Regions from separate parts of the Homo sapiens genome. Here regions 1, 2, 3, 5, 6 and 7 are each linked to region 4. The links come from fine-mapping of genetic effects on plasma protein levels. Region 4 holds a variant in brackets. A gene starts in each other region. All regions are shown on their reverse strands.

Evidence for each region. A credible set is the group of variants that fine-mapping cannot tell apart. PIP is the chance, under the fine-mapping model, that this variant and not a neighbour inherited with it causes the effect. Protein levels are from antibody-based Olink assays in UK Biobank. Linkage for the fine-mapping came from a reference panel and not from the study's own genotypes, which makes the PIPs less certain.
Region 1: CXCL11 starts here. The variant in region 4 is the best candidate, but not a certain one, in a credible set for the plasma level of the CXCL11 protein (UK Biobank, PIP 0.85).
Region 2: IL12B starts here. The variant in region 4 is the best candidate, but not a certain one, in a credible set for the plasma level of the IL12B protein (UK Biobank, PIP 0.73).
Region 3: CXCL10 starts here. The variant in region 4 is the best candidate, but not a certain one, in a credible set for the plasma level of the CXCL10 protein (UK Biobank, PIP 0.61).
Region 5: ICAM2 starts here. The variant in region 4 is the best candidate, but not a certain one, in a credible set for the plasma level of the ICAM2 protein (UK Biobank, PIP 0.52).
Region 6: CD7 starts here. The variant in region 4 is the best candidate, but not a certain one, in a credible set for the plasma level of the CD7 protein (UK Biobank, PIP 0.77).
Region 7: it holds the start of CD6, and the variant in region 4 is the best candidate, but not a certain one, in a credible set for the plasma level of the CD6 protein (UK Biobank, PIP 0.87).

Annotation. Positions count from the first base shown.
Region 1 is chr4:76,033,985-76,037,984 of GRCh38, reverse strand. It overlaps CXCL11 (C-X-C motif chemokine ligand 11), which reads left to right and starts at 1,915. Exons shown (of 4, transcript NM_005409.5): 1 at 1,915-2,058; 2 at 2,643-2,769; 3 at 2,866-2,938; 4 at 3,169-4,000. The coding sequence starts at 1,998. The coding sequence ends at 3,192. It also overlaps a transcript of ART3 not described here and the pseudogene RPL36P8.
Region 2 is chr5:159,328,256-159,332,347 of GRCh38, reverse strand. It overlaps IL12B (interleukin 12B), which reads left to right and starts at 1,861. Exons shown (of 8, transcript NM_002187.3): 1 at 1,861-1,916. It overlaps IL12B-AS1 (IL12B antisense RNA 1), which reads right to left and starts at 830. Exons shown (of 5, transcript NR_037889.1): 1 at 308-830.
Region 3 is chr4:76,021,251-76,025,342 of GRCh38, reverse strand. It overlaps CXCL10 (C-X-C motif chemokine ligand 10), which reads left to right and starts at 1,846. Exons shown (of 4, transcript NM_001565.4): 1 at 1,846-1,972; 2 at 2,526-2,652; 3 at 2,888-2,977; 4 at 3,395-4,092. The coding sequence starts at 1,912. The coding sequence ends at 3,413. It also overlaps a transcript of ART3 not described here.
Region 4 is chr12:111,443,542-111,447,617 of GRCh38, reverse strand. It overlaps SH2B3 (SH2B adaptor protein 3), which reads right to left. Exons shown (of 8, transcript NM_005475.3): 3 at 764-865; 4 at 585-676; 5 at 399-493; 6 at 74-288. LOC124903019 (a long non-coding RNA gene) reads left to right here and starts at 2,873. Exons shown (of 2, transcript XR_007063462.1): 1 at 2,873-4,076. RefSeq lists enhancers at 2,214-2,483, 3,234-3,353. The variant A/G (reference allele first, on the strand shown) is at 814.
Region 5 is chr17:64,018,597-64,022,596 of GRCh38, reverse strand. ICAM2 (intercellular adhesion molecule 2) reads left to right here and starts at 1,964. Exons shown (of 5, transcript NM_001099789.2): 1 at 1,964-2,074. RefSeq lists enhancers at 1,525-1,574, 1,795-1,884, 1,630-2,130, 2,225-2,344.
Region 6 is chr17:82,315,264-82,319,355 of GRCh38, reverse strand. It overlaps CD7 (CD7 molecule), which reads left to right and starts at 1,748. Exons shown (of 4, transcript NM_006137.7): 1 at 1,748-1,942; 2 at 2,375-2,689; 3 at 2,947-3,161; 4 at 3,925-4,092. The coding sequence starts at 1,861. The coding sequence ends at 4,035.
Region 7 is chr11:60,968,873-60,972,947 of GRCh38, reverse strand. CD6 (CD6 molecule) reads right to left here and starts at 1,268. Exons shown (of 13, transcript NM_006725.5): 1 at 1,034-1,268. The coding sequence starts at 1,082.

The DNA of each region.
Region 1 (4,000 bases), not on the chromosome of region 4:
AAGAATTTAAATGCAGGATTATATCTAAATAAATATATAATTTCAAGATAAAATGCAAATGATAATTCTCAAAAAAAGAAGTTGAATAAGATAAAATAATAATCTAAAAGTAATAAACTGGCTATAAATTCCCCGATTATACCAACTTTTATTGGTAAAACTAGGAAATAGGAGAAAATTCTTGAAAGAAAGTTACAGTGATTTTCTCATGTTACAAAGACAGGAGCTAAAAAAATATTATTGATGGTTGATGTAAATAATTAGAAAAATTCAGGTAAAAATCTTTTTAAAGAATTTTAAGAATTAATATCAAAATGTAAAACAATGTATTCCTTTCAAATTACTTAAGGAAGGCCAAGCACCGTGGCTCATCCCAGTAATCCTAGCACTTTGGGAGACCAAGGCAGGAGGATTGCTTGAGGCCTGGAGTTCATGGCTGCAGTGAGCTATGATTGTGCCACTCGACTCCAGAATGGTGACAGAGTGAGACCCATCTCATTAAAAAAAACAAAAATGGCTTCAAAAAGTTAAATAAAATATATTTAAAGTTAGAAAGAAATCAAAGAAAACATAAAGAATCAGCAAGGAAGCATTTTAAAAATTACAGATTACCAGTTATACAGTAAATATATTTTATTAAGCTTACCCATTAGAAAGCTCCTTTGATATGATTTTCTTAAACATCTACAAGTGACACACTTAAAACAAAGATTTAGGAAGCTTAAGAGGAAAAGATAAAGACAAAAAAATAGGAATTACATCAAAGTAGAATCTCAGAGGTAAAACTATCACATGAGCAAAGAGGATCACTTTTTTTTATGATCCCTAATACAACTCATACAACTTCATGTACTAAGTAACAGTGCTAAAATATATATAAAGTAGCTTTCCACCATGGCCACCATTGGAGGGCAGCAGCCATGACACTGCACTACCCTATAGCTGTGGGCCTCAACAAGGGCCACAAGGTGACCAAGAATGTGAGCAAGCCCAGGCACAGCCACTGTGGGCGCCTGACCAAACTCACTAAATTTGTGTGGGACATGATCCCAGAGGTGTGTGGCTTCACCCCTAACGAGTGGCGTGGCATGGAGTTACTGAAGGTCTCCAAGGTCAAACAGGCCCTCAAATTCATCAAGAAAAGGGTAGGGACAAACATCTGCACCAAGAGAAGGCAGGAGGAGCTGAGCAACGTCCTGGCTGCCATGAGGAAAGCAGCTGCCAAGAAGGACTGAGCCCCCTGCCATCTGCCTATAATGAAAGCTTTGCAGAATAAAATAAATATAAAATAAAGTAATAAAATTAAATTAAATTTAAAAATAAAATAAAGCAAAACAAAATAAAATATATAAAGTAAAAATTGTTGAAAATGCAAAACAATATGGACATAAATACAGAAACACAGGGAAACTTCTTTAGGCACTCATTTACAGGTAAAAATATGAAATTGAATAAAGGTCATCTGGTGTCAAATAATATAGGCCTTATCTATTATAAGAGTTTGGACTGAAAAGCAAAAGTGAGATAATAAAAAAAAGCTTTTCAGAATATTATTTTGTATAGATATGTGAAGGATGAAGGGTGGGTGAAAGGACCAAAAACAGAAACACAGTCTTCCTGAATGAATGACAATCAGAATTCCGCTGCCCAAAGTAGTCCGACAATTAAATGGATTTCTAGGAAAAGCTACCTTAAGAAGGCTGGTTACCATCTGGGTTTTCACAGTGCTTTCACATTCTTATCACTTTCAACACTACTGCAAATAGGAAGGGACAGTAACATTTAGAAGAGAACAAAACAGAAACTCTTGGAAGCAGGAAAGGTGCATGACTCAAAGAGGGAAATTCCTGTGCCATAAAAGGATTGCTGGTGTATAAAATGCTCTATATATGCCAATTATCAATTTCCTTTCATGTTCAGCATTTCTACTCCTTCCAAGAAGAGCAGCAAAGCTGAAGTAGCAGCAGCAGCACCAGCAGCAACAGCAAAAAACAAACATGAGTGTGAAGGGCATGGCTATAGCCTTGGCTGTGATATTGTGTGCTACAGTTGTTCAAGGTATGCAGTAATTTTTATTTCTCAACCTATAAGTTCCTTTTCTAATGTTTCAAATGTCTTTTCTTCCACTTTTATCCTAAAAGACATGATAAAGTTTTATTTAATCTCACAGATTAGAAGTTACTACAGCTTTAGCACAGAAATGGTGGACATGTTTAAGATACTAGAGATGATTATTGAAACTAGAAATTATGAACTTCATGGAATTTTTGATTTGGCTAGAATATCTGGCAAAAGCCTTTAGCAACAGTTTTAAATGTCTGTTAAGAAGATTTTATATAGCGATCATGTTAACAAGCTTCCTGGGAAAATATTTGAGGATAAAATCAAGGGGGCAAAACAAGCTTCACCTCCAATAAACTTCCTTCATGCTTCCCATTTGTTAGCGATTTGCTTACTAATTTAATGAGAAAATAATCAACATCTTACTTAACTTTTCCCAGTAACAGTTGTGTTAAGTGCTATTTGACAAATTACTATCTTTACCCTTAATGAAAATTCTGCTCACGTTCACCACCAGCTATAAACCACAGCCATCTGTTGCAATCAGATGCATTACTAACTAATGCTATGATCTATTCTAGGCTTCCCCATGTTCAAAAGAGGACGCTGTCTTTGCATAGGCCCTGGGGTAAAAGCAGTGAAAGTGGCAGATATTGAGAAAGCCTCCATAATGTACCCAAGTAACAACTGTGACAAAATAGAAGTGATGTAAGTAATGAACTTGCTGAAGATGACAATGGTGCAGGCTTTTTTGTTTATGTATTTGCATCTAAACTTTAAGACTCTTGTATGTTCTTTTAACAGTATTACCCTGAAAGAAAATAAAGGACAACGATGCCTAAATCCCAAATCGAAGCAAGCAAGGCTTATAATCAAAGTAAGTTACCAAATTACTCCCATGTTATAATCTGTTTTATCCAAGACAGATCTTTTGAAAAAGAAAATAATGTGGACAACTACAGAAAGATTCTGCTATGATCCTGTGTGAAATATTCTGTTAAGGGGTCCTTGGTTGTAACAGCTTCCCCTTCTTACTACATGTTTTTAGATGTCCTGGGGGAAACAAGAACAGCCCAAGTAAATAAAACTCTTGTTTTCTTATTCCAGAAAGTTGAAAGAAAGAATTTTTAAAAATATCAAAACATATGAAGTCCTGGAAAAGAGCATCTGAAAAACCTAGAACAAGTTTAACTGTGACTACTGAAATGACAAGAATTCTACAGTAGGAAACTGAGACTTTTCTATGGTTTTGTGACTTTCAACTTTTGTACAGTTATGTGAAGGATGAAAGGTGGGTGAAAGGACCAAAAACAGAAATACAGTCTTCCTGAATGAATGACAATCAGAATTCCACTGCCCAAAGGAGTCCAACAATTAAATGGATTTCTAGGAAAAGCTACCTTAAGAAAGGCTGGTTACCATCGGAGTTTACAAAGTGCTTTCACGTTCTTACTTGTTGCATTATACATTCATGCATTTCTAGGCTAGAGAACCTTCTAGATTTGATGCTTACAACTATTCTGTTGTGACTATGAGAACATTTCTGTCTCTAGAAGTCATCTGTCTGTATTGATCTTTATGCTATATTACTATCTGTGGTTACGGTGGAGACATTGACATTATTACTGGAGTCAAGCCCTTATAAGTCAAAAGCATCTATGTGTCGTAAAACATTCCTCAAACATTTTTTCATGCAAATACACACTTCTTTCCCCAAACATCATGTAGCACATCAATATGTAGGGAGACATTCTTATGCATCATTTGGTTTGTTTTATAACCAATTCATTAAATGTAATTCATAAAATGTACTATGAAAAAAATTATACGCTATGGGATACTGGCAAAAGTGCACATATTTCATAACCAAATTAGTAGCACCAGTCTTAATTTGATGTTTTTCAACTTTTATTCATTGAGATGTTTTGAAGCAATTAGG
Region 2 (4,092 bases), not on the chromosome of region 4:
ATGAATAAAATATTTGTGTCATTTTGAACCTTACTTGTCTTATTTTATGCATGTATTTATTTATGGGGGGGCACAAGGACTCATCTGTGGTGGTGCAGCCACTGTAAATAAATTAGTGAAACTACTTCACGTCAATTTCTGTTCAGTACACTTTAGTGATGGATCGGAGGAAATTAATACATGTTTACAAAAAGCCCCTCCCCCAGTTGTTACATATGCCTCAGAGATACCAGTTGTGAAAAGTGCAGGTGCACTTACACACATACGCACACACACCCCACAAATGGTATCATACGAAAAAACATACCTGCAATCTGCTTTGTCCACTTAATTGTATATCTTGGATACAGAACTTGTTTCACTGGAAGGCTAAAAGGCAAAGTCTGGGGAGGCCTAGAGGACACAGGGGATGGGAGGAGGCGCTCTGAGCTGGATGTAAGGTCTCCACCCACGGCCAGAGCACAAGGTCGGATAACCAGTGGGCCTGCCGGCTTGGCTGCCTGGGCCCTCCCCTGCCGAGACAAACGGCTGGAGGGAGGAAGTGTGCGGCTGGGAAGCTCCGCTGCTCTGGCCCGGGTTTCCCATTTCCCCCTTCCCGCGCTGAGACGGCGAGGAAAGTTAGCCCGGAAATCTGCGCCCGCCTAAAACCCGGCCTGGTCCCAGCCACCGCCCCAGGAACTTCCCCCACCGCAGGGGCGGAGGTCGAGAGCAGGGATGGAGAAGTGGACCTGCGCGGGTGGACTCCGGGGCGCGGGTGGACTCCGGGGCGCGGGGGGACTCCGAGGAGCGGGTGGACTGTGGGGCGCGGGTACCGTCTCGCAGCGACCTCTGTCGGCGGCTCTGGGGATGGCCCGCATCTGTCTGCGTGTACCTGGTATACGTGCAGGTACATGTTCCTGTTCACGTGCAGACTGGGCGGGGGATGGGGGGGTCCACACCGGTGTACACCTTTGCATACCTCTTAGCAACTTGAAATTCCACCACGAGAGATATCTTTATTCCGCTATTCCTGTGCATCTGCACGGAGCCCCTAGGGCCATAGATTTGTGTGCAAATGAAATGAGGATGTAGTCTGGGTGCCCAAGGGGGGGTGCCTTGAGTGTGGTTGTCTGTATGCCTCCCTGAGGGTATTTCACTTTCTGCTCCCATCCGCCCCTATGAGCGAGTACCTATGAGCACAGGATGTGCACATATTTGAGTCTTATTAGTGGTACACGCAGTTTTATCATCTCCCCAGGTCTGTGTCTGTATGAAATGTGCATGGGTGTGTGTGTGCACGCGTGTGTTCCCACTCGGGGAATGTGGGGAGAGGTGCATGGAGCCAAGATGGGTGGTAAATAGTATGTTTCTGAAATTAAAGGACTAATGTGGAGGAAGGCGCCCCAGATGTACTAAACCCTTTGCCCTTCATCTCATCCTCTCTGACTTGGGAAGAACCAGGATTTTGTTTTTAAGCCCTTGGGCATACAGTTGTTCCATCCCGACATGAACTCAGCCTCCCGTCTGACCGCCCCTTGGCCTTCCTTCTTCCTCGATCTGTGGAACCCAGGGAATCTGCCTAGTGCTGTCTCCAAGCACCTTGGCCATGATGTAAACCCAGAGAAATTAGCATCTCCATCTCCTTCCTTATTCCCCACCCAAAAGTCATTTCCTCTTAGTTCATTACCTGGGATTTTGATGTCTATGTTCCCTCCTCGTTATTGATACACACACAGAGAGAGACAAACAAAAAAGGAACTTCTTGAAATTCCCCCAGAAGGTTTTGAGAGTTGTTTTCAATGTTGCAACAAGTCAGTTTCTAGTTTAAGTTTCCATCAGAAAGGAGTAGAGTATATAAGTTCCAGTACCAGCAACAGCAGCAGAAGAAACAACATCTGTTTCAGGGCCATTGGACTCTCCGTCCTGCCCAGAGCAAGGTAAGCACTTCCCAAGCCCCTACCTCCCTCCCCTCCCTGTGGGCCTGCAGCTGTCCAGGTGTAGAAACCGTTAGTGTGCTACCCCAGCAGCTGGCAGGAGGGAGTTGGTGGATTCCTGGAAGCATCCCTGGTGAGTCATCTGCTGGAACATTAGTGAAAACTTAGTACTCTAGGGACCGATGTACAGTGTCCATTTTAAAAGCCACCTAATAATAACTGTATAGCAAGATCTGTGTGTATGCATAGTTTGTGGAAATGTTTGTTTTATCTTATTTTGAAGTGGTGTGTATTGATGTATAAAAGTATATTCCTAAATGTTAATGCCCATCAGTTAAAGGATTGTATAGAGCTAAAGTGAGTGGTGCCTGCCTTACTATTGAAATTTTTAAAAAGCCTTTCGTGCATTCCTTAAAGTAATTGGATTCATAATTATAATAATGTTACAAATCAGACTTGCTCCCATATTTGTGATGGTCTTGGTCGTCAGTTGTGATATCAACCAAAATGACAGCTGGGATCCCCATTCTTGTGGATTAACTAACTTTGGCCCCAGTTAAAAAATGAAAAGCTATTATTGCTTCCTAAAGAGTTTTTAAATCTGTGAGAAGGGGGAAAAAAAGGTTTTTTTACTTGCCCAGGTAAAATTGTGTGCAACAACAATGTCATTTTAACAAAGGGATTACTAAACCCCAGGTGATGACCCACTTTTTCAAACAAGGAATTGCAAGATACTAGATGGAATGTGGGTAACCTCTTAGAGTTTAGTTTACTGGAATCTGAAATTGTATGATTTCCGTACATTCCTTCATGCTACTAATAAGTCATGGAATCCCTCTGTGCTGGACTCTGGGGGTAAAGTGCAAAACAAGATAGACATGATCCATGGCATAAGAGAGTTCACTCAGTGTGGCAGAGAAGACAAACAGTAAAGAAGAGACTGTATTGTTGCCATTGTAGTAAATGCTGTGGAAGGAGGGGAGCAAATAGTGGGTCCTGACTTCATCTAGGCACCATGACACTTCACGTGAATTATGTCACTAACTCCTTACCACAGTAGCATGCCCATTTTATAGATCAGGAGTGTGGGGCTTAAAGGGGCCAAGTGACTCACCCAGAGTCACACAGTTCTAGAAGTCTGCCTGGCCCTCAAACTAGGGATCTTTGCATGTGCCACCCATGCCATCTGTGACTATATCTTTTTATTCTTTAATAATAACTCCCTTTTCTAATTAAAGGTAACAAACAAAACTTAAAAAAGAGATGCCCACCCAAGCGTCATTGGCATGCTGATGTTGGCACCAGTGTTGGGAAGCCCTTAGCATACTCCAGGAAGTAGGAGTGTGTAACGTGGGGTCCCTTTGTCCTTCATGCAAGGGTTTCAAGAGTTTAGAAAACCTATGAAATTGCACACACAAAAATGTGTTTTAATCATCAAGACTCTCAGACTTACCATGCTGAGAAATGTGGGCTGAGGGATAGCGCTCCCTAGTATCAGCTGATGGGCCAGAGAGCCAAAGGAGGAGACCCACCACCATCACCTCTCCTGGACAGTGCTCTGTGGTTTCAAATGTAGGTGATACTAAAATGGGAGTTGCTTCTTAGAACCATGGCCGGGGTTCCCTTGACCCTGAAGTGCAGTTCACCTGAGATTGTCAAATGCATCTGAGGCATGCAGAGGAAGTGCTGGGCACACAGCTAGTGGGAATACCTCAGCGTAAGTGGCCAGGAGATGCCAGGAATCTCCACTATTTCCCTTCCAGTGTGCCAGCCTCTGGGTTTTACAGGCGCATGTAATTGCAGTACCTCTGTGCACATTTCCCTACTGCCTAGAATGACTTTCTTGACTATCCATGATATATAAAACACAGATACCGAATTGTTCCCTTACCTCTTCCTCTAGGTTCAAGTTAATATGTTATTGGTTGCCTTCTATAATATGTTATCTCATTGCCTTTCCCAACAAGCCTTTGAGATAAGTATTAGGTCCATTTTATAGACAAAGAGACTGAGGCTCAGCGAGTAACTTGGCCAACAAGTTGCTCCCACTGCTCAACAGCAAATGAGCGGTGGGACCAAAATTCAAGCCTGTGTCTGTTTAACTTCAAGCCTGTGAATGTACTAACCGGTGCCCTGTGCCAGCTAGTACTTTGCTACAGTCATAACCTAGACTGAAGTG
Region 3 (4,092 bases), not on the chromosome of region 4:
CCATCTCTCATTTTGATTGTTTAATGTTGAACTTTTCTAGGCCTCTTCCATTCATGATGTCAGACATTTCTCTGAAATTTGTTGGCATTCTATTCACAGTAAAATGTTTGTTCTGCACAAATAGGTATGGAAGGATCCCTCCATTGTCACTATTTCTCATAAGACTTTCCCTCATCAGAACGAACGCCTCTTTGCTAGGTGAAAGTCTTTTGGGTTCTGTCAGTCTCTACCTCACCTCCCTCTCTTTTGCCTTTCCGGTTTCCCACAGCTAATTCCACTGACTTATTCACTTGAAAGCTTAGCTCTATTCCAGTTCCTAGAACAGATTAACATGGGATTCAGCTCTCTAGCAAATTCCATTTACCCCAAGCAACTCACTCTCTGCTTTAATGATGGAGTTCCTACATTTGAGGATCCAAGTTTTATGTGCACCCAGTTTGCAGATACAGGCTTTATTCTTGGCCCCTGATACCAGGTTCTGAGACAGTATCTGCCTAGTACAGTAGCCTGATCCTAGGATGGAAGCTTTTCCATTCCCTGACCAATCCCTGCATTGTTGCAGCCCAGCTGACTATGAAAAGAACTCCCATATATTTTCCTAGGTTCTAAATATCACTTGCCTCAGATCTCTCATTGCAGGGTGGTGCCTGCCTTTGAAACAGTATTTCATCTTGGATTCCCTGTTACTAATCATTTGCAAAGAACACAACCAAGGACCACTATATCCATGGATACTGCTAAATTTCCACTCTCAGGTTCAACATGTGTTCCATTATATGAGTATCATGTGCTTTCTACTGCTAGCTACTATGAATAATCAGTCAAGTACTATTGAATGCTGTGAAATTAAGTTTTGCCACGATTCATCATCCAGTTAAAATTGTGCCAATTTCAGTTATCACTGTTACTAGCTCAATGGCCAACACTTTTTTTTTCTTTTTCTTTGCATTTAACAGTGTCTTGGAGCTGAACCCCATCGTAAATCAACCTGTTTCCCTTCTGTCTCAAGCTACTTTCCCAAGGTCTGTCTCTATGCGTGCCCCCCCGCTTTTAAATTCATTTCCTCAAAAAGCACCCTTTGTTTTTTACAATAACCCTAGGATAGCTATGAATCCTTTTCTCACACCATTCTAGATACCATCTTATGATGTTTTCATTCAGGGACTGCTATAAGACGTGAAACTTGTTTTAACACACCACAAATCAGATACCCAAATGAGCAATGTTTTCCCTCAAAATAGTTATGTTGGAGGCTATTTACTTAATCTAATGGTGTTATGAATGATCAAAGCATTTATTGAATTATTTAAAACTTGCCAGTTCCAGATCTTTGACCCTGTCAAAGCAGGCCAGTCCTATTACTTTATAGTATTTGATCAAGGAGGACTGTCCAGGTAAATCACTGTTCTAATAATCAGGCACAACTTGCTGTTACCAAAAAATTAGGTTTACCTATAAAGGATGAAAAATTTCTATTACTGGGGATATTTTGAAAAATAACCTCTGAAAGTAACTGTAAAAGTTTAAGTGTTGAGAAAAAGCATTATAGTTAGAATGGATTGCAACCTTTGTTTTTTTCTATATGCAATGAAGTTCTTTTTTTCAAGAAACAGTTCATGTTTTGGAAAGTGAAACCTAATTCACTATTACCAAAAAAAGAGGAGCAGAGGGAAATTCCGTAACTTGGAGGCTACAATAAATAATACCTTCGAGTCTGCAACATGGGACTTCCCCAGGAACAGCCAGCAGGTTTTGCTAAGTCAACTGTAATGCCCTTATCCAATCAGAATTAGGGAGGGAAAATGGCTTTGCAGATAAATATGGCACACTAGCCCCACGTTTTCTGAGACATTCCTCAATTGCTTAGACATATTCTGAGCCTACAGCAGAGGAACCTCCAGTCTCAGCACCATGAATCAAACTGCCATTCTGATTTGCTGCCTTATCTTTCTGACTCTAAGTGGCATTCAAGGTAAGGAACATCAAAGGATACTTAATTTGTAAAATGAGAAATAGGAATAGGTATAAATTCTAAAAATACAGAAATAATGTATTTGTAAAAGTTTCACTGCATGCTTATAAATAAGAGGGAAATAAATAGAGATTCCCTCAGATCATAAAACTTATATGAATTGAAGTGAGAGAAACAAATAGAATAAGAGAAAGAGAAGGAAAAAGGGAAGGAGGACAGAAGAGATGGGGAAGAGGGAGGATAGAGAGAGAAAATGTGAGGGAATGCGGACAGAGATGAGATACAGATACTTCCTTACCTAACTAAGCTCAATGAACCACATGAACTGTGCTTAAGGGTTTGACTTTATAATCAACAAGCTGCAATTCTTTTCTTCCAGATAATCAACTCTTTAATCATTTACAGTTGTGTTATGATGTGATCCATTCCTCCTCAGATTAAGTGACTATTTGCTGATATGGGGATATAGGTTCTGCTAAATACCACCAGTCTACATTAAATGCCTAAAATGAACACTGTGCTAACCTTCTCTGCTGTTCCTCTTTTCCTACAGGAGTACCTCTCTCTAGAACTGTACGCTGTACCTGCATCAGCATTAGTAATCAACCTGTTAATCCAAGGTCTTTAGAAAAACTTGAAATTATTCCTGCAAGCCAATTTTGTCCACGTGTTGAGATCATGTGAGTGAAATCCCATCTGATTATCACTTCCCTGGTTGTAATTATATACTGTATTAAATATGTAATGATAATAAAAAAAGATCAGTAAAGGGTTTGTGATGATTCTAAAACTAATGTACAGCAAACAAAAACATGCAGAGTGAAACTTAAATGTCTGACTTCAGAACTGCGTATGCCATCTGTTTTATTGACCCAACACAGTTTTAAATATTTTCATCCCTATTTATTTCTACAGTGCTACAATGAAAAAGAAGGGTGAGAAGAGATGTCTGAATCCAGAATCGAAGGCCATCAAGAATTTACTGAAAGCAGTTAGCAAGGAAAGGTAGGTTTGCTGTTGCCTGCAGAAGAATTGCTCTTTAGGAAACGGCAATCTTGGGAGTCAGAAATACTTGCATTGTGGTTTGCTGTGCAATCGCTGGTTTAAAAGTATGTTACCACCACGCCCTCCCCTACCTCCATTTATTTAAATGCTGAGGCACCATCTTGTGTGATAAGTATCAGAAGTTACCCTGATTACCAGTCAACCTTGAAGTACAGCTATAACTATCTAAGCAAAACTGACAACATTTTCCCCAAGTCTTTCATGGTTGAAAAAAGCAACCCCTATAATCCATAATGAATGCATAGCAGCAGGAAAGCTCAGTTATCTATTCTATGAACTCGGTACTTTCCAAACACAACCCAATCTGAAGCCAGAGTCAGACTATCACACTTTTATATCCCCTTTCTCTTCTTACAGGTCTAAAAGATCTCCTTAAAACCAGAGGGGAGCAAAATCGATGCAGTGCTTCCAAGGATGGACCACACAGAGGCTGCCTCTCCCATCACTTCCCTACATGGAGTATATGTCAAGCCATAATTGTTCTTAGTTTGCAGTTACACTAAAAGGTGACCAATGATGGTCACCAAATCAGCTGCTACTACTCCTGTAGGAAGGTTAATGTTCATCATCCTAAGCTATTCAGTAATAACTCTACCCTGGCACTATAATGTAAGCTCTACTGAGGTGCTATGTTCTTAGTGGATGTTCTGACCCTGCTTCAAATATTTCCCTCACCTTTCCCATCTTCCAAGGGTACTAAGGAATCTTTCTGCTTTGGGGTTTATCAGAATTCTCAGAATCTCAAATAACTAAAAGGTATGCAATCAAATCTGCTTTTTAAAGAATGCTCTTTACTTCATGGACTTCCACTGCCATCCTCCCAAGGGGCCCAAATTCTTTCAGTGGCTACCTACATACAATTCCAAACACATACAGGAAGGTAGAAATATCTGAAAATGTATGTGTAAGTATTCTTATTTAATGAAAGACTGTACAAAGTAGAAGTCTTAGATGTATATATTTCCTATATTGTTTTCAGTGTACATGGAATAACATGTAATTAAGTACTATGTATCAATGAGTAACAGGAAAATTTTAAAAATACAGATAGATAT
Region 4 (4,076 bases):
TAGGACCCTGAACTCCAGTGGAGAGGGGTGGCACGGTCCTGCCTGCCCCACCCCACCCCACCCCACCCCATACCTTGGCTATCCCCTGAAAGTTGAAAGTGAGCACGTATTCCCCACGCCGCGTCTCGCTCTGCCGCACCAGGAACACTCCATGAGCATCAGGGCCCTGCAGCTGAACCAGCTGAGCTGCTTTCACTCTGGAGATGGGGCCGTGGAACCAGGGGTAGCAGGACAGGAAATGGTCCGTCTTCTGGCAGGCCGGGTCCAGCAGCCCCCCAGGAGAAGCACCTGTTAGATAAGATGGGTGATGGTGGTCGCAGGGGGCTACCTTATGTCCTGGGCTGAGTCTGGGTTCCAGCGTACCCAGAAGACAATGGCCTAGCTATTGGTTTACCCACCTTGGTTAAGGGAATCTGTGCTGCCCCTTGGGGAGCTGGACGTGCTAGGCTCTAGGGCTGAGGGAATATGCATCTCTGCTTCTGTGCTCTCCAGCCTGCTGGAGAAGAGGCTGAGGTTAAGGATCTGGGCAGGTCAGGGGTGGTAGCAGCAAAGGTGGTGCCAGGGACGAGGGCCCAGGACCTCACCCTCGGCCTGTGCACTCCGAGAGCTCAGCCATCCATGAATTCAGCTGCTGCTCGTCTCCCACCTCAAAGATGATGTCTGTCCGGTCCTTCACCTGGCAGGGAGGAAGGGAACAGGGTTGGGTCTGCTGTATGTGTATGTATTTGTATTGCCCCAGGGTGTGAAAAGCCTTGTCACTCACCTTCAGCACAAAGGTGTAAAGGTTGTCAGGCATCTCAAGCCGTGTGCACC[A/G]CCGGACCTCCTGGATGCTGGAGCAAGCTGCTTGTAGCTTGGGCCTTGAACTCTACGAGACCAAGTTGGGGTACTCAAGGCTTGTTCCTGATGCTCTTTCTTCCAGCCAGGCCTGAGTTTGTCTATAGTCTCCCCAGGAGTCCCCCTTTTAGAGAGAGTATCCATGGTGTTGCTGGGCAGGCTCTGAGCCTGTAGTGAGGTCCAGGGTGCCTTCCCCTAGCCTCCTGAACACCATTCACACTGAGATCCCAAGAAGCATGTGCTGGCAGAAGGCCAGCCCTCCCAGCCCATTGGACCTGGACTTGGAGACATTCCCACTCTGCCATGTGTCTGACATCCGTTTCTCTTCCCACTGGTGAGCAAACAGCTCCCTGCCCAGCCAGGTGATAGCAGCTGCTGACGGTCTCATCACACCAAGCCCAAAGGGGCAGAGCCTAGCATGGCTAGCCTAAGTTATAGCCACTGTAAAACCACAAAATCTTGGCCCTGGACCTTCCCAGGACACCCGGCACATAGGGCTGCAGGGTGGATAGGAGTTAGCCACTGTTCCTTTGCCAGCAGGAAACCTGCTCCCAGGTCTCAACTGACCCTGCAGATGCTTCCTGTGCTGGGGCACTCTGCAGCCAAGGAGCCAGCTGCTTCCGGTTGGGAATCTGCTCAGGAGGGGGTTTGCCCCTCCCCTTCCTCTTGTGATAAGACTGAAAAGATGGCCGAAAGAAGAAAAGGGGAGAAAGAGATGAGATAAGGAATGGACAGAAGTGGCCCCACTGGGCCCCCTCCATTCAGGTGTTCCTGGAAAATACTACAACCCCTAACAAACTGGGAGCAGGGGGATGGAAAGCAGAGGCAGCCCAAAGGATGTTCTAGCAACTGTGGCTTCAGGTGATCTGACCTCCACCTCAGCCCAAAAGGGCATACCTTGGACTGGAGCTGCTAGTGCTGTTGAATTGACCCCCAAAACCAGATGCTTAACCTTGCTTTACACACAGAGCTGCCAGGTACCTCTGTCGGAAGGATCATGACCCAGTGGCCTGGCCACCTCCTTTATCCCCCTTCCCCACCTGCAGGAGAGTCAATGAACAGTGAGGTAAGAGGGCAGCCTGGCAGGAGCAGGATGGCCACCTGGGCCCTTCCAGCAGGTCTCCTGGGAGCTCCCGGGCCTGCTCTGGTTGGCGGACACAACAGGCTGGGGGAGAGTAATGACTGCAGGAATGACCAACACTGGCCACAGCTCACTGCGGCCTCTCACTAGAAAGCTGCATGACTAGAAAATTCCAGCCTGAAGTGACCAGCACCAGCCAGGGCATTTTCACCTCCTACTCCCAGAGGTCCAGCAGCCAGGATGAGGCAGGCAGAGTGAGGCCTCACATGGCATCCACACGGGCACTGGACACAGCGCAGTGTGCAGGGAGTGGGGCCTCTGCGCTCTTGCCCATTTTTACAGCCAGCCAGCCCTGCAGAGCCTTCATTTCCTGTCTGCAAGATGGGTAAGGTGCGAGTGGCCACTTCCTTCTGCTACTTTTCCAGTTGGCCCTGCCTGGCCCCCACCCTTCCCCCTAGCTGCAGGCCTTAAGGATCACTGGGAGGATATAGGCCAGGCCTGGAGGGGAACGGGCCTAGTCTCCCTTTCAGTTCCGCTCCAGGCCTAGTCCCCAGTGTCAGTGCTGAGATTAACCAGCAGAGCTGCCGGTTTCACTCTGACTCTGGCCCCTGCAAGCCAGCTCCACCCCCAGCAGCTGAAGAACTGCTGAGCAGGCAGGCAGTGGTGAAAAGAGGATTCCCCTCCTCACCCACAGCCAGCCTGGCTGCCACCTGCCTGCTGGCTGAGCACAACCCAGGGGTTCTTCCCCAACTCCCCACAGCAGCCCTTGAGAGCCGCCCAGGCCTAGAGCCACAATCTCAACCCAAGCCTGCCAAGTATCAGAGCCGGGGTCCGCCACAGCTACCTGGTGGTATGGGTGTCCTATGCCAGAGGCTCCAGCCAGGTTGCAGCGTGTGGGCACATGGGCGCAGGACAACCCCTGCTTCAGTCGAAACCTCAGCCTGGACAGCTCAGGCTCTGGCCACTGCAGGGAAGGACCACCAGATGCCCATCAGATTAAGCTATATGGGGGGATGGGTGAGAGGGGAGACAAGCTCAAACCTGGGGGCTGTGTCAGCAGCTGTGGGGGCTTTAGGTTCCCTCCTCTCACATGCCCGCTATTCCACCTCCCTCAAAAGTCAAGCCAGGCCAGCAACAGCTGCTCCCTGGACCTGCTTAGGCTCTACTGTGGTTGGGTGATCAAAGTGGCCAGATCATTTCAGGTATTTGTGGTTTGAACAGTAGACTGTCACCCACCACATCCTGCAGCGTCTATTTCTGGGGAGCAAGTCTTCTCCATTCCCAGCATCTAAACAGATGGCTTCTGTTTGTTATGGCCACTGTGGCTCCAGTGGGAATAATCTATTTCTTTCTTTGCTCTGGCTGCTAGGAATCTCAAAGTCAAAGACGTAGGCCAGCTCTGACACTACCCCAACGGTAGGACTTGTATTTATTTCAACAGCTAACTTTATCCCAGATGTTATAGTTCTTTTATCCTCTAGGGTTTTTTGTTTTTGTTTTTGTTTTTTGAGACAGATTCTCACTCTGTTGCCCATGCTGGAGTGCAGTGGCGCAATCTCGGCTCACTGCAACCTCCACCTCCTGAGTTCAAGCGATTCTCCTGCCTCAGCTTCCGCAGTAGCTGGGATTACAGGCACCTGCCACCACACCCAGCTAATTTTTGTATTTTTAGTAGAGCTGGGGTTTCACCATGTTGGTTGGCCAGGTTGGTCTCGAACTTCTGACATCAGGTGATCCGCCTGCCTTGGCCTCCCAAAGTGCTGGGATTTTAGGCATGAGCCACCACGCCGGGCCCTACCCTCTAGGTTTTAAGATTCAGCCCTGACCCTGCCACTTCCTATACAACCCTGGACAAAGGGTTCGGCTCTCCATGCCTTAGTTGTCATCTGTAATTCAGCTCATTTTTTCACAAGGTGAGCTAACACAAGCGAAAGGCATGACTCGCACAGCTGTTAACAGGCCGGTGAGTAAAGCCTGCTTGGCTCCCACTACACTACTGACAGCATGACAGTCCCCTCTGAGTAGCCTAGCCACTGGGTACACCCCCAGCTTCTCTCAGCCTTACAGAACTATTGCCCCATTTTGTCACATGCTCCCTTACCATCCTGCAATAAATTCCACGTAATATAACCAACATACTACCCTAACTAATTACAAGACA
Region 5 (4,000 bases), not on the chromosome of region 4:
AAACTGCACATCAAAGGGAGGAGTAAGGAAAACAGGATGGCAAATCTTCAAAAATTAAACAAAATTACTTTTTTTTTTTTTTGTAGCGATGGGGTCTCACTTTGTCACCCAGGCTGGTCTTGAAGTCCTAGACTCAAGCAATCCTCCCACCTCAGCCTCCCAAAGTGCCGGATTTACAAGTGTGAGCCACCAAGCCCAGTCAGAATTACCACTAAAAAAAAAAAAGAAAAAAGGTTAAGATGGTAGATTTTGTTGTGTATATTTTACCATTATGATCCAGCATTTCCACTTCTGGGTACATACCCCAGAGAACTGAAAGCAGAGTCTTGAGCAGGTATTTGTACAACCCTGTTTGTAGCAGCACTATTCACAATAGCCAAAGGTGGAAGCAACACAGGTGTCCATCAGTATATGAATGCATGAACAGAATGCGGCACACACGCACAATAGGATATTGCTCAGCCTTCAAAAGGAAGGCAGTTCTGGCCAAGCGTGGTGGTTCATGCCTGTAATACCAGCACTTTGGGAGGCTGAGGTGGGCGGATCATTTGAGGTCAGGAGTTCGAGACCAGCCTGGCCGACATGATGAAACCCCATCTCTACTAAAAATACAAAAATTAGCCAGTCGGCACGTGCCTGTAATCCCAGCTACTCAAGAGGCTGAGGCAAGGCCAGGCACGGTGGCTCATGCCTGTAATCCCAACACTTTGGGAGGCCAAGGCGGGCGGATTGCCTGAGCTCAAGAGTTTGAGACCAGCCTAGGCAACATGGTGAAACCCCATCTCTGCTAAAATACAAAAGAAATTAACCAGGCGTGGTGGCGTGCACCTGTAGTCCCAGCTACTCAGGAGGCTGAGGCAGGAGAATTGCTTGAACTCGGGAGGCGGAGGTTGCAGTGAGCCGAGATCACACCACTGCACTCCAGCACTCCAGCCTGGGCGACAGAGTGAGGCTCCATCTCTACAAAACAAACAAACAAACAAACAACAACAACAACAACAAAAACACTGAGGCAAGAGAATCGTTTGAACCTGGGAGGCAGAGGTTACAGTGAGCCAAGATCACACCACTGCACTCCAGCCTGGGCAACAGAGCGAAACTCCATCTCAAAAAAAAAAAAAGAAAGAAAAGAGAAAGAGAGAGCTCCAGAGATGGATGGTGGTGATGGTTGCAGAACAATGTGAATGTACTTAGTGCCCCAAACTGTACACTTAAACATAATTAAAATGGGCCTAGCACGGTGGCTCATTCCCAGCATTTGGGAGGCTGAGGTGGGAGGATTGCTTGAGCTCAAGAGTTTGAGACCAGGCTGGGCAACATAAGCAACACTCTGTCTCTACAAAAACTACAGAAATTAGCCAAGCCTGGTGGCTGCACACTTGTAGTCCCAGTCACTTGGGAAGTTGAGGAGGGAGGGTCACTTGAGCTCAGGGGTCAGAGGTTGCCACGAACTGTGATTGTGCCACTGCACTCCAGCCTAGGTGACAAAAGCAAGACTCTGTCTTAAAAACAACACAACAAAAAATTGGCTGGACGCAGTGGCTCTTGCCTGTAATCCTAGCACTTTAGGAGGCCGAGGAAGGCAGTTCACTTGAGGTCAGGAGTTCGAGACCAGCCTGGCCAACATGGTGAAACCCTGTCTCTACTAAAAATACAAAAATTAGCCAGGCGTGGTGGCAGGTGCCTGTGGTCCCGGTTACTCTGCGGGCTGAGGCACAAGAATCACGTGAACTCGGGAGGCAGAGGTTGCAGTGAGCCGAGATCACACCACTGCACTCCAGCCTGGGTGACTGAGACTCAGTCTAAAAAAAAAAAAAAAATTGAAATGGTAAATTCTGTTGTGTACGTTTTACCACAATTAAAAAAAAAAAAAGCGGAATGGGAGTGGAGCTAAATGAGGCTAGTTTAGGGTGGGAACCGGGGCACAGGAAGCACGTCACTTCTGGTGGGGAGTGGGGGGAGGGAGAAGACTGAATAAGCCGTGAACTGGGCAGCTGTGACACGCGCACCTTGTCACCTTGTCACCAATTTCCTGCCCGGGATCCCAGAGCTACCCTTCTTGGAGCCCACAGGGGTAAGGTTGAGCTTCTCACTTTCCCTCCAATGAAGCGTGGCAGCATGGGAAGGATTTTGGCAGTGTCGAGGTCTGAGTTTTAGTCCGTTCCCCTCTCTGGGTCTCAGTTTCTCGCTGGTAAGTGCAGGGGTTGGGGAATCCCCAGCGCTCCTGTGGCTCGACATTCTGCACTCTGTGAAGCTCCTGCCCTGCCCTGCTGGGTCTCTGAGCTCACGCACTTGCCCTGGCGCTCCTTTCCTGATTTGTCTCCCCTCTCTCCTTCCTCTGCTCTGCCATCTCGGTGGCCGATGTAGAAATGTGGGGCTGCCTCCTTATTTAGGGGCCCACGTGGGCTGTGATCTGGACCATCTGAGCTGATGCAGAGGGGAAGGGACAGTCCCTGTTCTCCCCGGCAGGCGTGGTGGGTTCATAATGAATCTCAGTCACTCACTTCCTACCTGCCTCGGTTCGAGGGGGTCTTTCCTAACCCATGGCTCACATTCCCATGAAGCCTCTTCTTTCTAGGCACGTAGAAAGGCCCTTTTTCCCTTTTATTATTTTTGTAAAATTTACTAGGTAACGCATAAAAAGCTTATGTAACATACATATACATCATACTGCACAGTAATATACCAAACACACCTGAAGCTGCCACTCAGCACAAGGATGGAGTATCACCAAACTGCAAACACCACTTATCTGCTTTTTTTTTTTTTTTTTTTTTTTGAGACAGAGTTTTCATTCTTGTCGCCCAGGCTGGAGTGCAGTGGCACAATCTTGGCTCACCACAACCTTCGCCTGCTGGGTTCAAGCGATTCTCTTGTCTCAGCCTCCCAAGTAGCTGGGACTACAGGTGCGCATGCCACCATGCCCAGCTAATTTTTGTGTTTTTGGTAGCGACAGGGTTTCACTATGTTGGCCAGGAGAGTCTCGATCTCTTGACCTCATGATCCGCCCACCTCGGCCTCCCAAAATGCTGGGATTACAGGCGTGAGCCACCACACCTGGCCACCACTTGTCCACTTTTATGCTACTTGCCTCCCACCCACAGGTAGCCACCCTCTGGAATTTTGTGTTTATTGTTCTCTTATTTTTAAGTGCTTTATTACATATGCATCTCTATTTATTTATTTATTTATTTATTTACTGAGATGGGGTCACACTATATTTCCCAGGCTGGAGTGCAGTGGCTATTCACAGGCATGATCATAGCACACTACAACCTCGAACTCCTGGGATCCAGTGATCTTCCCACCTCAGCCTCCTGATTAGTTGGGACTACAGTCTTGAACTGCTGCACCTGGCTATGCCTATTTATTTTTATTTTATGAAACAGTTATATAGCGTTACTGTGTGCTAGGCACTGTTCTAAATGCTTTAAAATATTTACTTATTTTATTTGTTTAATCTGCACAAAAACCCTATGAGGAAGATACTATTATTGATTCCTTTTTGCAGATGAGGAAATTGAGGCACAGAAAGATTAAGTGATTTGCTCAAGGTCACACAGATAGTGAGAAGTAAGGCCGGGAGCAGTGGCTCATGCCTGTAATCCCAGCACTTTGGGAGGCCAAGGCAGGAGGATCATGAGGTCAAGAGATAGAGACGGTCCTGGCCAACAAGATGAAACCCCATCTCTACTAAAAATACAAAAATTAGCTGGGTGTGGTGGCGTACGCCTGTAGTTTCAGCTATTCGGGAGACTGAGGCAGGAGAATAGCTCGAACCCGGGAGGTGGAGGTTGCAGTAAGCCAAGATCGCGCCACTGCACTCCAGCCTGGGCGACACAACGAGACCCCGTCTCAAAAAAAAAAAAAAAAAAAAAAAAAAGAGAAGTAAACACAAAGACATGTCTGGTTCTTAGTGTGACAGCGTTTCTAGGGCATACATCTAAGAATGGAACTGTGAGTTACAGGGTATAAGAATATTCCGTTTACAAGATAATGC
Region 6 (4,092 bases), not on the chromosome of region 4:
CTGCACACACATGCGTGGAATCACGCGCACCCGTCTCTGCACACACGCGTGGAGTCATGCGCACCCATCTCTGCACACACACGTGTCCACACGCACCCGTCTCTGCACATGCGTGTCCACACACATCCATCTCTGCACACACGCGTGTCCACATGCACCCGTCTCTGCACACATGCATGGAGTCACGCGCACCCGTCTCTGCACACACAAGTGTCCACACACCCGTCTCTGCACACGCACGTCCACACGCACACGTCTCTACACACGCACGTGTCCACACGCACCCGTCTCTGCACACCCGCGTGTCCACACGCACCCGTCTCTGCACACACGCATGGAGTCACGCGCACCCGTCTCTGCACAAAGTGTCCACACACACCCGTCTCTGCACATGCGTGTCCACACACACCCGTCTCTGCACACACGCGTGTCCACACACATCCGTCTCTGCACACACGCGTGGAGTCATGCGCACCCATCTGCACACACACGTGTTCACACGCACCCGTCTCTGCACATGCGTGTCCACACACACCCGTCTCTGCACACACGCGTGTCCACACGCACCCGTCTCTGCACACACGCATGGAGTCAAGTGCACCCGTCTCTGCACACACGTGTCCACACACACCCGTCTCTGCACACGCACATCCACACGCACACGTCTCTGCACACGCACGTGTCCACACGCACCCATCTCTGCACATGCGTGTCCACACACACCCGTCTCTGCACACACGTGTCCACACGCACCCGTCTCTGCACACACGCATGGAGTCACACGCACCCGTCTCTGCACACACAAGTGTCCACACACAGCCGTCTCTGTACACGCACGTCCACACGCACACGTCTCTGCACACACACGTCCACACGCACCCGCCTCTGCACACGCACGTGTCCACACGCATCCGTCTCTGCACACACACGTGTCCACACGCACCCGTCTCTGCACACACACGTGTCCACACGCACCCGTCTCTGCACACACATGTCCATACGCACCCGTCTCTGCACACACACGTGTCCACACACTCCTGCTCATGTGCTGCACCTACTGGCTTTGGGCACCAACGTCAACGCTTCGTCATTGTGGCGGGAGGCCCTCAGGACAGAGAAGTGCCCCCTCCCAGAGGACTCAGTCACCCTGGGGTCAGAGCCCAGGCACAGGTCTCCCTCAGCCCCTGAAGCTGGGCACTGCGGCCTGACGCACTCCTCCCAGGGAGGTCGGGAAACCTCAGGCCTGGACCATACCTCAGACCTCCCGCCTCCAGGACATGGAACGCAGAGCCACGGTCAGCTGGTCGGCTGCAGCGTTGGGTGCGGGTGCAGGCCCAGGCTCCTTCCCCACGGCCAAACCAGGGGGTGCCAATTCTGGCCTGCCCTGTGCTCCTCTGCACTGTGTGGGTGACTCATGGGTCATGGGTGGCTCCAGATTTCTGGGCATAAATTGGGTCCCAGCAGAAAGTACCCCAGAGGACCAGGCAGGCTGGGGGCCAGCTCTGCCGCTCACTTCCAGACCCTGCCACCCGTCCCCAGCCAGGGAGTCCCTTCTCTGTCCTCTGGTCTGCCCCGCCCCAGGCCTTGACCTCCTCCCTGTGGAGATGCAGGGGCAGTGGGGGATACAGGGACGCCCTGCTCTCAGGGCAGCTCTCAGGGAGGCAGTGCTGGGGAGGGGTAGGTGAGACCGCCCCTCCCACCGGGCCCACAGCACCACCCTGGTCTGAGGCACCGCCTCCAGGAAGCCCTCTCTGAGCTCTGAGCGCCTGCGGTCTCCTGTGTGCTGCTCTCTGTGGGGTCCTGTAGACCCAGAGAGGCTCAGCTGCACTCGCCCGGCTGGGAGAGCTGGGTGTGGGGAACATGGCCGGGCCTCCGAGGCTCCTGCTGCTGCCCCTGCTTCTGGCGCTGGCTCGCGGCCTGCCTGGGGCCCTGGCTGCCCAAGGTAAGAGCTTCCCAGGCTCTCCATGGCCACAGCTCCAGAGCTCTCCCTGCCCCATGAGCTCAGAGCCCCCAGTCTGAGCCACAGCACAGCCCCCAGGAAGCGGGTGGGGTGCTGAGCGGCCTCCAGTGTCTGAGGACTCATTTAAGAGAAGGAAAAAGGGTGGACCCCGGTGGGGAGTGGCCGGGGCTGTCCAGGCAGGGCCGCTGCTTTGGGAGGAAGAAGCCCACAGTCTCGGAACACGAGGACAGCACCTCCCCCAACACCACAGCCGGTGCCCAGATCTGCTCCATGCCCCGTAAGGCACCGTGTCTTTGGCGACATGTCAGCCCTGGGCTGTCTCAGGGCCCCACCATCCCCACCACTGTCCCCTGCAGGGAGGACATTCTCTGTCCTTCTGGCCAGACTGATGGTGACAGCCCAGGTCCTCCCCAGAGGTGCAGCAGTCTCCCCACTGCACGACTGTCCCCGTGGGAGCCTCCGTCAACATCACCTGCTCCACCAGCGGGGGCCTGCGTGGGATCTACCTGAGGCAGCTCGGGCCACAGCCCCAAGACATCATTTACTACGAGGACGGGGTGGTGCCCACTACGGACAGACGGTTCCGGGGCCGCATCGACTTCTCAGGGTCCCAGGACAACCTGACTATCACCATGCACCGCCTGCAGCTGTCGGACACTGGCACCTACACCTGCCAGGCCATCACGGAGGTCAATGTCTACGGCTCCGGCACCCTGGTCCTGGTGACAGGTAGGGAATGTGCCCATCCCAGACCCCCCTCCCAACCCCAGCTGCTGGCCAGGCTCTGCTCCCCCAGCCCTTGTCGTGGGACCCTCCCTCCTACATGTGCCTGAACTGTTCCAGCTCCCAGCCCACTGCCCCCAGCAGCCTCCTAGATAGCTGCCCCTCCTCCCCTCCACAGCCTTTCCCTGCCCCGAATCCCAAACCCCGGGGGCTCTAACAGGTTCTCCACCGGGAGAATCCCTTCCTTCTTTTTTCCTTCTCAGAGGAACAGTCCCAAGGATGGCACAGATGCTCGGACGCCCCACCAAGGGCCTCTGCCCTCCCTGCCCCACCGACAGGCTCCGCCCTCCCTGACCCGCAGACAGCCTCTGCCCTCCCTGACCCGCCAGCAGCCTCTGCCCTCCCTGCGGCCCTGGCGGTGATCTCCTTCCTCCTCGGGCTGGGCCTGGGGGTGGCGTGTGTGCTGGCGAGGACACAGGTCAGTGTGAGCCCCAGCTGCCACCTGCACCCCAAAGATTGTTCCCTCTCCTGAGAGCAGCGTGGGGGGCGCCAAAGCCCCAGAGGAAAACCCTGGTACCCGCCGCCTCCTCTGCAGGCTCTGGAACTCTCAGGGTGGAAGTGGCCTCGGCGGGGAGGGAGGGGGACCAGCACCAAAGCGACCTGAGGGGGAGGGAGCAGCCCAGGCGCTGGGCCCGCGTGTGCGCGTGTGCGCGTGTGCAGGTGTGAGTGTCTGAGGGGGGATCTCTGAGGTCTGTGCGTGCAGGTTGGAGTGTGCGGGCAGAGGAGGGAGCGCCCAGGCGCTGGGCCCGCGTGTGCACGTGTGCAGGTGTGAGCCTGTGTGTGGGGATCTCTGAGGACTGTGCGTGCATGTTGGAGTGTGCCGGCGTGCTGTGTGGCCGTGGGAAGGGGAGGGGGCCTCAGACAGACACAGAGTCTAGGCGTGGCCACTCCCCTCGGTCCCTGCTGTTTGTCTGGGGCTGGAGTGGGGGTCCCGCTTGGCTTGGGCTTGGTGGGGGGGTCCAAGCCACTTCCACTCTCCTTCTTCAGAGGCACCCCAGGGTCCGACCCAGCCCTGCCTGGGGAAGGCTCTGCTGGGAAGCCCTGGGGCTCAGGAGACCTGGGGGCCAGCCCAGAGGAGCCCCGTGGGGGTCTCGTGTTAAAATTAGAAAGCTGACCGGAGTGGGGTGGGGTCCAGGACACCACGCTGGCCACTGGTTGGAGACGGCGGTTCTGTCTTTCAGATAAAGAAACTGTGCTCGTGGCGGGATAAGAATTCGGCGGCATGTGTGGTGTACGAGGACATGTCGCACAGCCGCTGCAACACGCTGTCCTCCCCCAACCAGTACCAGTGACCCAGTGGGCCCCTGCACGTCCCGCCTGTGGTCCCCCCAGCACCTTCCCTGCCCCAC
Region 7 (4,075 bases), not on the chromosome of region 4:
AAACTCCAGTTCCCAGAGCCGAATGGCTTTCCCTGAACCAGTATGAGGCCACAGGCTCGGAACACATGCCTGGAGATCAAGGCAGAGAGGAGAGCACTCCCTGCCCAGAGTCTCGCGACATGTACCCAGTCCTCCAAACCAGCTCGATGCCCCCTCCTGACTGGGTCTTCCTGGGTCTCCTCCATCACAAAATGAAAGCACTTGGCTCTCTGGCTGCAAGGTGGACCCAGACTCCCCTGGCCCGAATTCTGTTTCCATACCAGTCTTCCCAAATCCCAAAATGTGAGAGCTCGATGGGGTCAGGATCTCTTGCATCTCCAGGCCCCTGCCCCGCTCTGGCCAGCTTGGACCCTGCACTCAACAGGGGCCAGCAAGTATCTGGGGAGCACAGTCTAGTGCCCCAAACCTTCTGGCCATCTGATTCCCTGGCCCAGGTGGCCAGGTGCCTTGACACTTGGGGGCAGCTTGAGACGTGGGGGTGGCCTTCATGCTCGCTTATGCCCTAGACTACCCCAGCTGGTTGTGCTGAGGCCATCAGCGCCTGGTTGTCCAGAACTCTCCCTGGCTTCCCTGAGTCCTGTTTCGGGAGGTGCTCTCCTGTGATTGGCCTACGCCTGCTGGACCCCAAGCCTCAGCTTTGGCGTTGAAAGTACCACCATCAGTGGTCCTGCCTCTCTGGAAGGTGAACGGTTCCTTCTTAAGAGTTGGCAAGAAATAGGAAATGGGGGAGTTCCTGAGCTTAAGGATGGGAGAGGCACCTCCCTCCTCACACCCTAGGGACCCATTGGTAAGGCACAAAGCATGCTTCCCACATTCTGTCACTCCAGGAGGCTTCCAGGCACAGCCCCAGCCCCTCGAGGGGCTCCTGTGTCCTCTCCTAGCCCCAGATGCTGGACCTCCCTGGTACCTGAGTGTAGTCTTGGCTAAAAGATCCTAGAAAAGTGACCACAAGGAAACAACCAGAAAGGGGACTGAGAGGGCCGGACCCGGCTCCTCCAGCACCAGTGGCAGGAGATGAGGGAAGGGGGCCTACCTGAGAGGGCTGCCGTCAGCAATCCAGTGATCCCGAAGAAGAGCCACATGTCTGGAGCTGTCTCTGGCTGCTACGCGTGGCTGCCTGTGGGAAGCACCATCTTGGGGCCGGGAGGTGGACACGGCCGTTGTGCGCCCCTGGCGCAGGTCTGCTCTACCCTTTGCTGTTCTTGTTCCTGTGTCTCTCTCTGCTCTCTCCTCTCCGACACGCATGCGATCAAACCCAACCTGTGAGTGTCTCACGCCTGCTTGTTCTGCTTGTGGTTTTGGTCTGCAGGAAGCTGGGCTGCTGTTACAGGGGCTGGTGGGGAGAGCCCCAGCTGCCTGTGCTGGGAGCCCACCCATCCAGGCTGCACCCCAAGAGTCACGGAGCCAGACACACGCATGCACACGCATCCATGCAGACACACTTCCCCGAGGGTCTTCTAAGAAGAAGGGAAGTGGAAGAGCCATGCCTCATTTCTGGTGGCCCAGAAGAAAAAATTGATAATGTAGTAGCTGCTCAATCAGTACATATTGGAAGAGGGAGTGAATGACCCATTGCCTGTCCCGGTCCGTGTAATTTGGCTCTCTTGGATTAAATCCTGAGTTTTATCTTAACCTTAGGTGCAATGGTGGTTGGGAAGGAGGGTGTGGTCTTGATGCACTTTTGGAGATAAGAGCCTAAGTCTCCCCTCAGAGAAATATAAATTGGGAAGGGCCTGAGAGATGGCCATCCCACAAGTCCTTCTACAGGGAAGGGTGCCAAGGCCTTGTGGGAGCCGCCCCGTCAGATGGCACAGTGGGGCCAGCTATCCCATCTCCAGGTACCAGACTGGGCATGCCTCCGTGGGAGTCAGGCATGGGAGCTGGGTCTACAAGGCTGAGCAGGATTTTGACAAACAGCAATCATGGGAGGCCTCTGGGCCAGAAGGAATAGCAGGAGCAAAGGGCTGAAGGAAGGAAGCCCAGGGCTGCCTGAGAAACCCCGAGTTGCCCCATTGCACTGCAGCAGACTGACGCTATAGGAAGAAGGCAGGGGCCAAGCGTGTTTAATTCCCATGGTACTCCCTGTGGAGCATATGGTAGGAGGTGAATAAATGTTTATTGAATGAGAAAAGGAATAGATAATTTGGTTGTCCAAGCAGGGCCCTGGAAGTGGTCAAATCCAGAAGGGGTTTGGTTCCAAATCCTGGCCCTGCCTCAATTGGTCCCATCCCAGGTCCACCTCTCCTGGCCCTCCACTTCCTGCATCCTTGCTTGTCTTCATTTCCCCAACATGTGGAATGAGGAGCGGTCCTCCTCCATTGGGTTCGGTCCTAAATGTGGGTGTATGCATTTGATGCGGCAAGTATTAGAGCCACGGGGAACCAGGCGCCCCCAGAGTGAGACTCCTCCCAGTCCTGCCCCAGCGCCGGCACCTGCTGCCGCTGCCCTCTGGTGGAAGTCACTGGCAGCACAGGTTTGCATGGGTGCCTCGAGCTCCCAGATGCAATTCCATTCATTTACACAGTCTTGGTGTGCAGAACTCTGGACAGGACTCTGTGGAAGTGAAAGAGAGGAAACCATATTCCTGCCCTCAAGGAGGATGAAGTTCACACACACACAAGTGACCAAACCACAGGCCAAGGTAGGACACACATAATGTGAGGTCTCCTGGTCCTAAGAGGAACCCGTTTGAAATGGGCCGGGAAGGATGGCTAGACTCCATTTCTGACAATATGGTAGACAGCAGATGCTGAAGAATTCTCCTAATACAAAACACCACAAAAATATTGTAAACCATCTTTTAAAATGTGTAGCTGAGGTGGTGAGAAATGAAGAAAATCATCAGAGATCAAAAACGACAATAAGCCTGGGCAACATGGTGAAACCCTCTCTCTGCAAAAGGTGCAAAAAATTAGCCAGGTTTGGTGGCACACACCTGCGGTCTCAGCTACTCAGGAGGCTGAGGTGGGAGGATCGCTTGAGCCCAGGAGGTCAAGGCTTTAATAAGCCAAGATTGCACTGCTGTACTCCAGCCTGGGCAACAGAGTGAGACCTTGTATATGTTAATATATAAAGACAACAAAAATCCAAAGAGATCACAGCCAGCAGAGAAGTATCTGTTGATCCAGTTGACCAAGAGCTTCAGTCTTATGAACATGGACAAAAGTTAAAGCTGAGAAACAAAATCGAAGTGAAAAACAAAATCCAAAATTTCTGCCTTAAACAAAGAGCACTGAAATACAACATCCACAGTGGAGAACTCGGAGAGAAAAATTCCTTAAAGCGAGCTGACACAGAGCTTGCCCAACTCAGTATGGACTCTGAGTGGGAGAAAAATAAATGTCAACCCTGAATGCCCCTCACCACAAGTCTACCCACTAATAGGCCTGGAGGTGAAACTCATGGTGACTTTGTGGCAAAAACAACCACACAAAAAACAAACAAACAAAAAGATAAGATAAGAATTTAAAGTAAGGTAAATAATAGCTCCTTAGGCACGTGGCAGAAACAAATGATAAAAATTGTCTCTGGAGTAACTCATCCTATATTCATGACTCAAAGAAATCCCACAGAAAAACTCCCATGGAACATGAGTTCACATGTTTGTAAAACAGAAAAATCATAAAACACAGGACACAAGGTGCTTTAGGTGAGAGGAGCACCAAGCAATAAACTAAAAATGCAGACCTTCGAACACATCTCAGATGTTGGAATTGCAGTATATATAATATAAAATAAGGATGTTTCATATGCTTCAAGAATTAAAAGTTGGTAATTGAAAGTATAGATAAGGAACAAGAGACTATTTAAAGTGACCAGGAAGATTGAGGGAAAAAAAGCAAGCAGTTATGTAAAAACATAATTTTTGAAAATAGAAGCCCAGTGTACAGATTAAACAGTAGATTAAGGCTCAGCACTTTGGGAAGCTAAGGCAGTCTGATGGCTTGAGGCCAGGAGTTCAAGACTAGCCTGGCTAACACAGTGAAACCCTGTCTCTATTAAAAATACAAAAATTAGCCAGGTGAGGTGGCACATGCCTGTAGTCCCAGCTACTCAGGAGGCTGTAGCACAAGAA